Regions from separate parts of the Homo sapiens genome. Here region 1 is linked to region 2. The links come from fine-mapping of genetic effects on gene expression. Tissue or cell type: whole blood. Region 2 holds a variant in brackets; the other region holds the start of a gene. All regions are shown on one strand. Distances are between the middles of the regions.

Evidence for each region. PIP is the estimated chance that this variant, and not a neighbour inherited with it, causes the effect. A credible set is the group of variants that fine-mapping cannot tell apart.
Region 1: CYP2C8 starts here. The variant in region 2 is the best candidate, but not a certain one, in a credible set for the expression of CYP2C8 in whole blood (TOPMed, PIP 0.77).

The regions. Positions count from the first base shown.
Region 1 is chr10:95,067,914-95,072,303 of GRCh38, reverse strand. CYP2C8 (cytochrome P450 family 2 subfamily C member 8) reads left to right here and starts at 2,807. Exons shown (of 9, transcript NM_000770.3): 1 at 2,807-3,069. The coding sequence starts at 2,902. RefSeq lists a cis regulatory region at 972-992 and a promoter at 1-2,902.
Region 2 is chr10:95,217,499-95,221,902 of GRCh38, reverse strand. It overlaps ACSM6 (acyl-CoA synthetase medium chain family member 6), which reads right to left. Exons shown (of 11, transcript NM_207321.3): 9 at 1,932-2,012. The region is part of intron 3 of LOC107984257 (a long non-coding RNA gene); the gene reads left to right. Among named protein-coding and RNA genes, the nearest start is that of ACSM6, 25 kb to the right of the region's middle. The variant T/A (reference allele first, on the strand shown) is at 2,533.

The sequences.
Region 1 (4,390 bases), 150 kb after region 2:
GCATGGGGGGTTTTTAGGACAGCAAATCTATTCTGTATGATGCTACGATGGTGGATATATGGCATTATACATCAGTCAAATTTATAGAATGTACAACACAAACAGTAAACCCTATGTGAACTTCGAACTTTGGTTGATGATTATGTCTTATTGTTGGCTCACTGACTGTAACTAATGAACCCCACTGATGGGGGTTGTTGATTGTGGGAAAGACTATTTGTAGGTGTGGTGAAGGGGTTTGTGGGAACTGTTGCTCGGAGCCTAAAATTGCTATAAAAATAAATTCTATTAATTAAAAAAAAACCCCGCTCTAATTCACAACCCTATCCAAGCTGAGGTGGGTGTCAATCTGTGACTGTAGAGGGCTTAATTAATGCTAATACACTCTTGATCATTTGGACTTAGGTGGGAATTCTATAGGATAGGGTATTTCACTGAACCACCAAGCAGGAAAACTGGGATTCTAATACAAAATCTTTTACTGGTGCATTGATAATGCTCTAACTCACTGAGTCACCAATTGCTCATTCCTGAAAAACAAAGCAAAATTAAATTAGTAGATCTCAGAGATCCCGTCTGTCTTTAAATTATCTATGTTCCTTTTATTCTATAAAAAGAAAGGTCAAGGCAGGAGCCTCAGCTCAGGAGAAGAAACAAGGAGCAGAGCAAGGGCAACTGTTTCTCAAGGAATAAAATTATTGCTCTAAAGAGAGAAAGTGAACTTATTTTATCCAAATAAACTAGCTTATACCTACGTGAGTGAGGCAGCAAATTACTACTTCCCTTTGCCCTGGATAAAGGGTTCACCAGGACCTGGACTCACTCACCTTTTAAAGGTTATAAAACCAAACACGTCTGACCCACATTTTACTCAACTGGTGCTAGAATTATTAACTAAATTAATGTTTATTTTGAAAGTCACTGATTAGATTAATCCACAAGTATTGAATTTTAGTCAATCTTGGTGGCCCGGTTTAACTGGATGTTTTGCTTAAAAGGAAGGCAGCAAGATGCAGGGGTTATGGTTTCCAGCCCCAGCTTGGTCACTTGCATTCTGTGTGTCCTTAGCTAAAGTACTGAATCTCCATGGTCTAACTTTCTCCTCTCTAAACTGGGAATAATTTTACAGTGGGCAAAGATAATTGAGAGAATAAAAAGAGATGTGATGAGTGTGAAAATTCTCTGTAAATTTGTCATAATGTCTATAAACATAATCGATAAAACATTGTATAACTGGGTCTTAATATTTTCTTAATGAAAGAGCTGGAAATAACTGTACTGGTCAATTTAGAATAAAGGTAATCTTTTCAGAGCATGCCTTTGTATACACACTTTGTTATTAGTGATCTAGTAATGTTCATAAATCCAGTTGTATTTAGATCTTCATGACCATTGACTATCAGTTCCCATTTCAGGTCTGCACATTGCAGTGGTTCTGTGCCCTGGGTCCATTCAGTGATTTCCCTGTGTTCCATCTTCTGTTGAATCCACAACTGTTGTTCTGTGTATAATTTCTCTTCCTTGCTGTGTATGATTACATTCTATTATTTGTAACAATAACAGACCAAAAACAATAGAAGCAGCCATGTCTGGAGGTGACTGGAAGGTGGAGAAGCCATAGATTTTCAAGCCCTGTGCCATAAATTATGTGAGATTGGCCCTTTCCTTAATAGTGCTGAACAACTTTCACTTGTGAGGTGATGCAGAGGGGAGAACTCTAATTTTTATTTCTTCTTTTGAGCGTCTCCGGTCCTCTTATCCTTATAAACAAATAACGGACTTCTATTTAATGTGAAGCCTGTTGCTTTCTGAACAGAGTCAAGGTGGCGTATCTTCAGAGTAACTAATGTCTGGGGTTTGTTTTGTTTTTCTAAAATTGTTCTTGAGCCAGCTGTGGTGTAAGTGGTAATGAACCCCAATGGGTATCAGAAGATCTCTGCTCAAATCCCGGTTTTACCGGCAATGAGCTGTGTGGCACTGACAGGTGTCCTGTTCTCCCAGAGTTTCTTTCCCAATTTGAAAAATAAAAAATGATAATCTTTATACTCCAGTCTCTTTTAATGATGAATATACATTTATATATATACTTTTATATATTTAATATAATATTTAATAGTATAAATATGTATTTATGTTATTATTATGTAATAATGTATGTAACACTCCCTGCTAATTCAGTTTGTCTCTTTGACATGTAAAGTAAATAATCACCTATTATTATAATAATGTAATAATAACACAAATATTATTATGTAATAACATATATATTTATGTATATTGTTTATATACATTTAAATATATATAAATATACATTTATTAGCTAATAATTTGATATATGTATGGTAATTCAACATGTATGAGTTATATTCACTATTTCATGTTTAGGCAGCTGTATTTTAAGTGAACTATACTAAATATTTGAAAGGCTTTTGTTATCAAGGGCTAAGTCTCCTATTTTTTGATATAGCATTACAATGTACATTTTTTATACACAAAATATAGAATACACTGATTTCCCTCAAGGTCATAAATTCCCAACTGGTCATTAATCTGAGAATATTGAATTTTGAGTATATTCTAACATAGAATCATTTACTTCAGTGTTTCTCCATCATCACAGCACATTGGAACAACCAGGGACTTTTAATTAAAAATACCTGGGCTCCAATCCAATACAATTAAACCAGAATCTCCTAGATTGGCACTGGAAAGAAGGAGTAGGACAAAAGAACATTTTATTTCTATCCATGGGCCAAAGTCCACTCAGAAAAAAAGTATAAATTGGATCTAGGTGATTGTTTACTTTACATGTCAAAGAGACACACACTAAATTAGCAGGGAGTGTTATAAAAACTTTGGAGTGCAAGCTCACAGCTGTCTTAATAAGAAGAGAAGGCTTCAATGGAACCTTTTGTGGTCCTGGTGCTGTGTCTCTCTTTTATGCTTCTCTTTTCACTCTGGAGACAGAGCTGTAGGAGAAGGAAGCTCCCTCCTGGCCCCACTCCTCTTCCTATTATTGGAAATATGCTACAGATAGATGTTAAGGACATCTGCAAATCTTTCACCAATGTAAGTCTGCCTTATGTTCCTCCAGCCAATTGCAAAGGGTAAGTTATTTGACTGCTATTTTTAGACAAAATATATTCCTGGAAGCACACTATTATAATAGATCATTGTAAAGCAAAATACTCCCTCTGAACTTCTTTGATGTTTCTTTTGTCTTCCTATTTTTTTTTTTTTTGAGACGGAGTCTCGCTCTATTGCCCAGGCTGGAGTGCAGTGGCACTATCTCCACTCACTGCAAGCTCTGCCTCCCAGGTTCACACCATTCTCCTGCCTCAGCCTCCCCCGAGTAACTGGGACTACAGGTGCCCTCCACCATGCCCGGCTAATTTTTTGTATGTTTTAGTAGAGACAGGGTTTCACCGTGTTAGCCAGAATGGTCTCAGTCTCCTGACCTCATGATCTGCCTGCCTTGGCCTCCCAAAGTGCTGGGATTACATGTGTGAGCCACCGTACCTGGCCTCTTTTGTCTTTCTAAGTCTGTCATTGTCAGAAATAGCGGAGTGAGTTGATGCATTTTGTGAATACAGAAACATTGGGGTCATTGTATTATATAATCATTTAATACAGTGGCAAAAGTTTAAAGTGCTGTTTCTCCTCTTTGTTTCACAGTGTTTTGCTATGATTTTTGACTGAAGGTGAAGGGAAGTGTGTGTGATTAGAAATTTCATCCAATAAGTTCTCTACTATAGTAGTCATGTGTTTTATTCAGAATGGTCATGAAAATTGAACTTCTCTGAAGATTCATTTGATGGCTGATGTGAAATAAATATCTGTGGGTTCAGGGCAAACATAAGTGCATGAAAGAAAGAAGTAATCAGTCAGGGCCCAATAGGTAGTTAACAGAATTCTTTTGGATTCTGAAGAAAGCCACTGTCTGTGGCCAAGGTTGCTGGAGAATGGAAGAAATTGTTCTTCCAGGAGATGCTGAATGTCCTGATTCTAACTTTGTGGTGCTTCATCGTTCCATATTGGTAATACCAGCAGTTACAAACTGGACTGGGCATTAGAATCACCTGGGGTGACACTGTAAATACAGATTTCTAGGGTTCATCACAGGACTGCTGTATCAGAATCCTCATGTTAAGAGCTTTACAAGTGACCCTGAAGTCTTTAGCTGGGTAGTGGCCTCAAGGTGGACATGGGGGATTGATTAATTGCTCAAGCATCAGTTTAAATTAGCAGAGATTCCAGTTTGGAGCTTCTACATATTACCTGTGGGACTCTGAGAATGAATCTGCAATTCTCTGGCCTCAGTTTCTTCATTTTTAAAACAGGTCAAATGAATGTGCTGAATGTGTTGAAGTGAGGATGAACTGTGTGATTT
Region 2 (4,404 bases):
CCCAATTTCTTGAGAATTTTTATCATCAAAAGGTGTTGAATCTTGTGGAATGCTTTTGCTGTGTCTTTTGAGATTATCATGTCATCTTTGTCCCTCATTCTGGTAGAATGCATCTGTGAAGGCATTTGGTGCTGGGCTTTTCTTTGTTGGAAGGTTTTTGATTACTAATTTAATCTCTTTGTTAGTTATTGGTATGTTCTGACTTTTTAATTCTTTATGATTCAGTCTTGGTAGGTTGTATGTTTTTAGGACTTTATCCATTTTTTCTAAGTGGTCTATTTTGTTGACATATAATTTTTTTCCTTTCTTTTTTTTTGAGATGGAGTTTTGCTCTTGTCACCCAGGCTGGAGTGCAGTGGCATGATCTTGGCTCCCTGCAACCCCCGCCTGCTGAGTTCAAGGGATTCTCCTGCCTCAGCCTGCTGAGTAGCTGAGATTACAGGCATCTGCCATCACACCCGGCTAATTTTTGTATTTTTGTAAAGACGGGGTTTCACCATGTTGGCCAGGATGGTCTTGAACTCTTGACCTCAAGTGATCCACTGGCCTCGGCCTCCGAAAGTGCTGGGATTTCAGGCATGCACCACCACACCTGGCTTTGTTGACATATAATTATTCATAGGGATTCTATAGGGATTCTTCACATTTCTATGGCATGAGTTGGAGTTTCTCCTCTTTCACTTCTGATTTTATTTCTTTGTGTATTTTTCTCATTTGTTTTTCTTAGTTCTAAGGTTTGTTGATTTTGTAGGAAGATTTTTTTTCTAAGAAAATCCTAAGGAACATTTTATTTTTCAATTTCATTTATTTCATTTTTGTTTATACTTTAGTATGCAAGGAACATTTTAATTTTTTCTTATTTTTTGAGAGGAAAATTACATGCTCATTTTATTCATGTCTCTAAATGCAAAGGCCCAAACAAATAAAAATTAAGAAATTAAATCCAAGAAAATAAAAAGAAAGAAATGCAACGAAAATTTAACATTTGAAAATATTTTTAATTAACTCTATTAATAGAGAAAAACTATTTTACCTTTTTAATAGGATCAGAAAACACATTTAATATAATGTAGTACCTATTCATGATTACTGGAAAAAACAAACATATAAACCTCAATGTATTAGGTTAACTTCCACATCCTGTTAAATAATATGTAGTGAAACTGGATAGGCAAACAAAAAACAAAAAATAGAACTCTACAGTAAACATTATCTTTAACAAAATTGGGTCAATTTCAGAATGATACAATAGTTAAAGTAAATACTAATATTTGTTTCATTCAGGTTGAGAACTTACTATTTCCTTTTGACCAATGTTAAAAAAAGGCGAGATAGGCGTGAAAGCAAAGGACTATCTTAAAATGAATAATGGTAATTTCATAAGTGCTGCTAATTTGAGTCTGCTTTTATGTAATAAAATCCTAGACACAGCATTTGCCCTACCATCTTAGTATTGCTTCCTATGCCCATACTGTGAATTCAGCTACATCATTTGGGAATCACATTACAGTATTTATAATAATCGACACCCGAGCAGCTGACTAGTGGCTTAGACTTCCCACTTTAGTATATTTTTAGTTCAAGTACAGAATGCTTATTATGGTGCATTCAAAATAGTTGTCTTTATTTTGCACATATCTTTTTAATAGCAATTTTTTTTATTCGATTTCTCCATATTTGAAACTTGAACTACATTAAAGGGATATTCTGCAAAATTGTCAGCATCTCCTTCCCTCATTCCTGTGTCTGGGCTTTGTATTCCAAAAGGATATTGAGGTGGAAATAAAAGCAATAATGTGAGATTATCCTTGGGGTGAATTTAGAGAATGGTGGACTTTCCTCATTGCCTACCTTTATGTCAGAAATTTAGATAAACAACTGTAAGAGCTCACTTAATAATATCTGTCATAATCATTACTATGATCTCCTACCTGGACAATATAAGGTGGCAATGGCTTCCCCAGAGAGCTTGGCTTCAATTTTATTGTTTTGGAAGTGGCACAGAGTAGACCCTGTTCAAAGAAATGCAGACAAGTTTTTCTTTAAAAAAGCAATAAATTAATGGATCTAGTTATTGATCATAACCAGACATTATGTGCCTCCTAACAGAACAACATTACACAGTCTAACAAGTAATCTTGATTAAAAAAAAATCAAGCAGGAGTGTGACTAAATTAACCTCTAGGTCAATTTACAGGAAATGCAGGGGAACAGAAGAACATGTAAACCATACTGCAATTAGCAAAATCCAGGCTGTGAAATATTCAAAAGAACCAACAACTCAGTTTTTTAAAATAACAAATTCAAGGAAAAAAGAAGGTAATGAGGAAATTCATAGATTAAAAGATACACAAAAGTCTTACCAACTAGCCACAATGTGTGTGCTTAATTGGAACAAATGGTAGCAAGAAAACATGCATGACTTAGATGATGGATGAAAATGTCAGTGGTAGATATTTGTTAATAAAAGGCAATTACTGTTAACTTTCAGGTATAATTGGAGAATATGTTTGTTTTTTAGTGCCTTTTTTT[T/A]AAATATACTAAAGCTATTTATGAGAAAATATTGTTTTTGGGATTGTAGAGGAGTAATGATAAAACAGGATTAGGTAATAATTGATGAAATGGGCAGTGGATGCATGGGAATTCAAATACAGTTTTGTCTATTTTTGTCTTTTGAGATTTTCAATAATAAATGTCTCAAAAATAAGTAATTGTTGGCTGCTGAGAAATACTTCAGCATACATGCAGGGCACCCCAAAGAGGGCACAGAGGTCTACCTTGGAGGACATGAGAACTGGATCTTGGATGAGTCAACCATGGGTGTAATGGGATGGAGAAAATTTTATTTATTAGAATTTTACCCCTAAAGTGCTGGGACTATAGGCATGAGCCACTGTTCCCAGCCTAGAACAGGAATTATTTCTGTCTTCTACATAGTTATTTTTCCAGTACCTATTGCTGTGTCTTACACGGAAAGAGACTTAATATTTTCTTGTGTTTACATGCTAACAAATTGGGAGCCCCCAGATTCTGAATGTTTTTGAGGATGGCCATAGTAATCTCTCTCTAGTGTACCGCAGTAACTAGTTTTATGGTTCCTTTAAGAACTCCTCCTTCCCTTCATCTAATCTGGTGGGACTATTAATCATGGTTCTGTAGATCCACTTTTTGGCATGAACAAATGTCTCAGGTTAGGCCCCTTAAGTTATAGTCCAAGGGAAAAGCATATGACAGAAGCATGGACAATCAGAGTCTGTTCCAAGAATTTTCCAAAGTAGAGGTAGAAGTAGGGCTATTTTGATCTTGTCTGAAGGAGTGGTGACTCCAGAGTTGCTGGTGTTAATCTTGTCTGCTTTGTGGAAGAAACTCATCAGAGAACAACTCAGAGAAAAAAGCAGATGGAGCAATTGAGAGGGAGAGAAAGAGAGAGCTGATGTTTTAAGAGTTTTTTTAGTCCTGGTGTTTTGGCCTCTCCAGTCTTGATTCCGTAAGCCTTGAAGCTATTCCCAGCAAAATGGACTTATAATTTCCACTTTTGCTCAGGCTTGTTTGAAATATGTTTCCATCACTTGCATCCCAAATAATGCTCACAAAACACAAGACTCCTTAGCTATTGCCAGTACATTACAATTAAATGGAAGATGTACATTTTCTCCCATGCAGGTTGTGTGACTAACTAAAAATGCCAAGTTTATTAGGTGTTGCTGGAGTCATATCAACTTAGTGTATCAACCTTGCCTTATTTCAGATGTTCTGAGTGTCAGTTATATTTGTATTTCATAAAAAGAAAGATAAAGCCAAAATCATTACTGCCTAAGATGTGCTGTTTTCTTGCTAGACAGAATCATTCACAACCTGAGATCAGTGGGGAAATACAATGCAATGAGTCCTGGGTGCTGAAAATGTCAACTCTTTGGATGTAATTAAATGGATCTGTGAGTGTAGTATAGACAGAATCTGAGACAGAATTTGATCATTTCTCAAGTTCCCTCTTTTACAGTTTTGAATTGTAACTTGCGTACCAAGCGTGAGCTTGACTATGAGGTCTCAAAGTTTTGAACCTTGTGTTCTGAATTTTCTTTAGCTTTCTAAGTGAGGATGTTTCCTGAGCCATATGGAACTACATAGCTCCACCAGGGTCCTCAAACTATAGACCTCTCCCCAGAGCCTAGGCTATCAATTTGGCTGTTTTGTCTTCTCCCACACAGTCTGAGGTTTTCTTAGTCACCAAAGAATTTTTTTTGGACGTATGACAGAACTAAGTCCTATAAAAAGGCTTTGGTGTTACCAAGATTATGGAATTCCCTTCTTAGTATAATTAATAAAAACAGTAGTAATATATAAAACAAATGTAAGAAATCCCCCTGCCCCCCACCACAAATTCTTATTTCTCCCATGCTATTT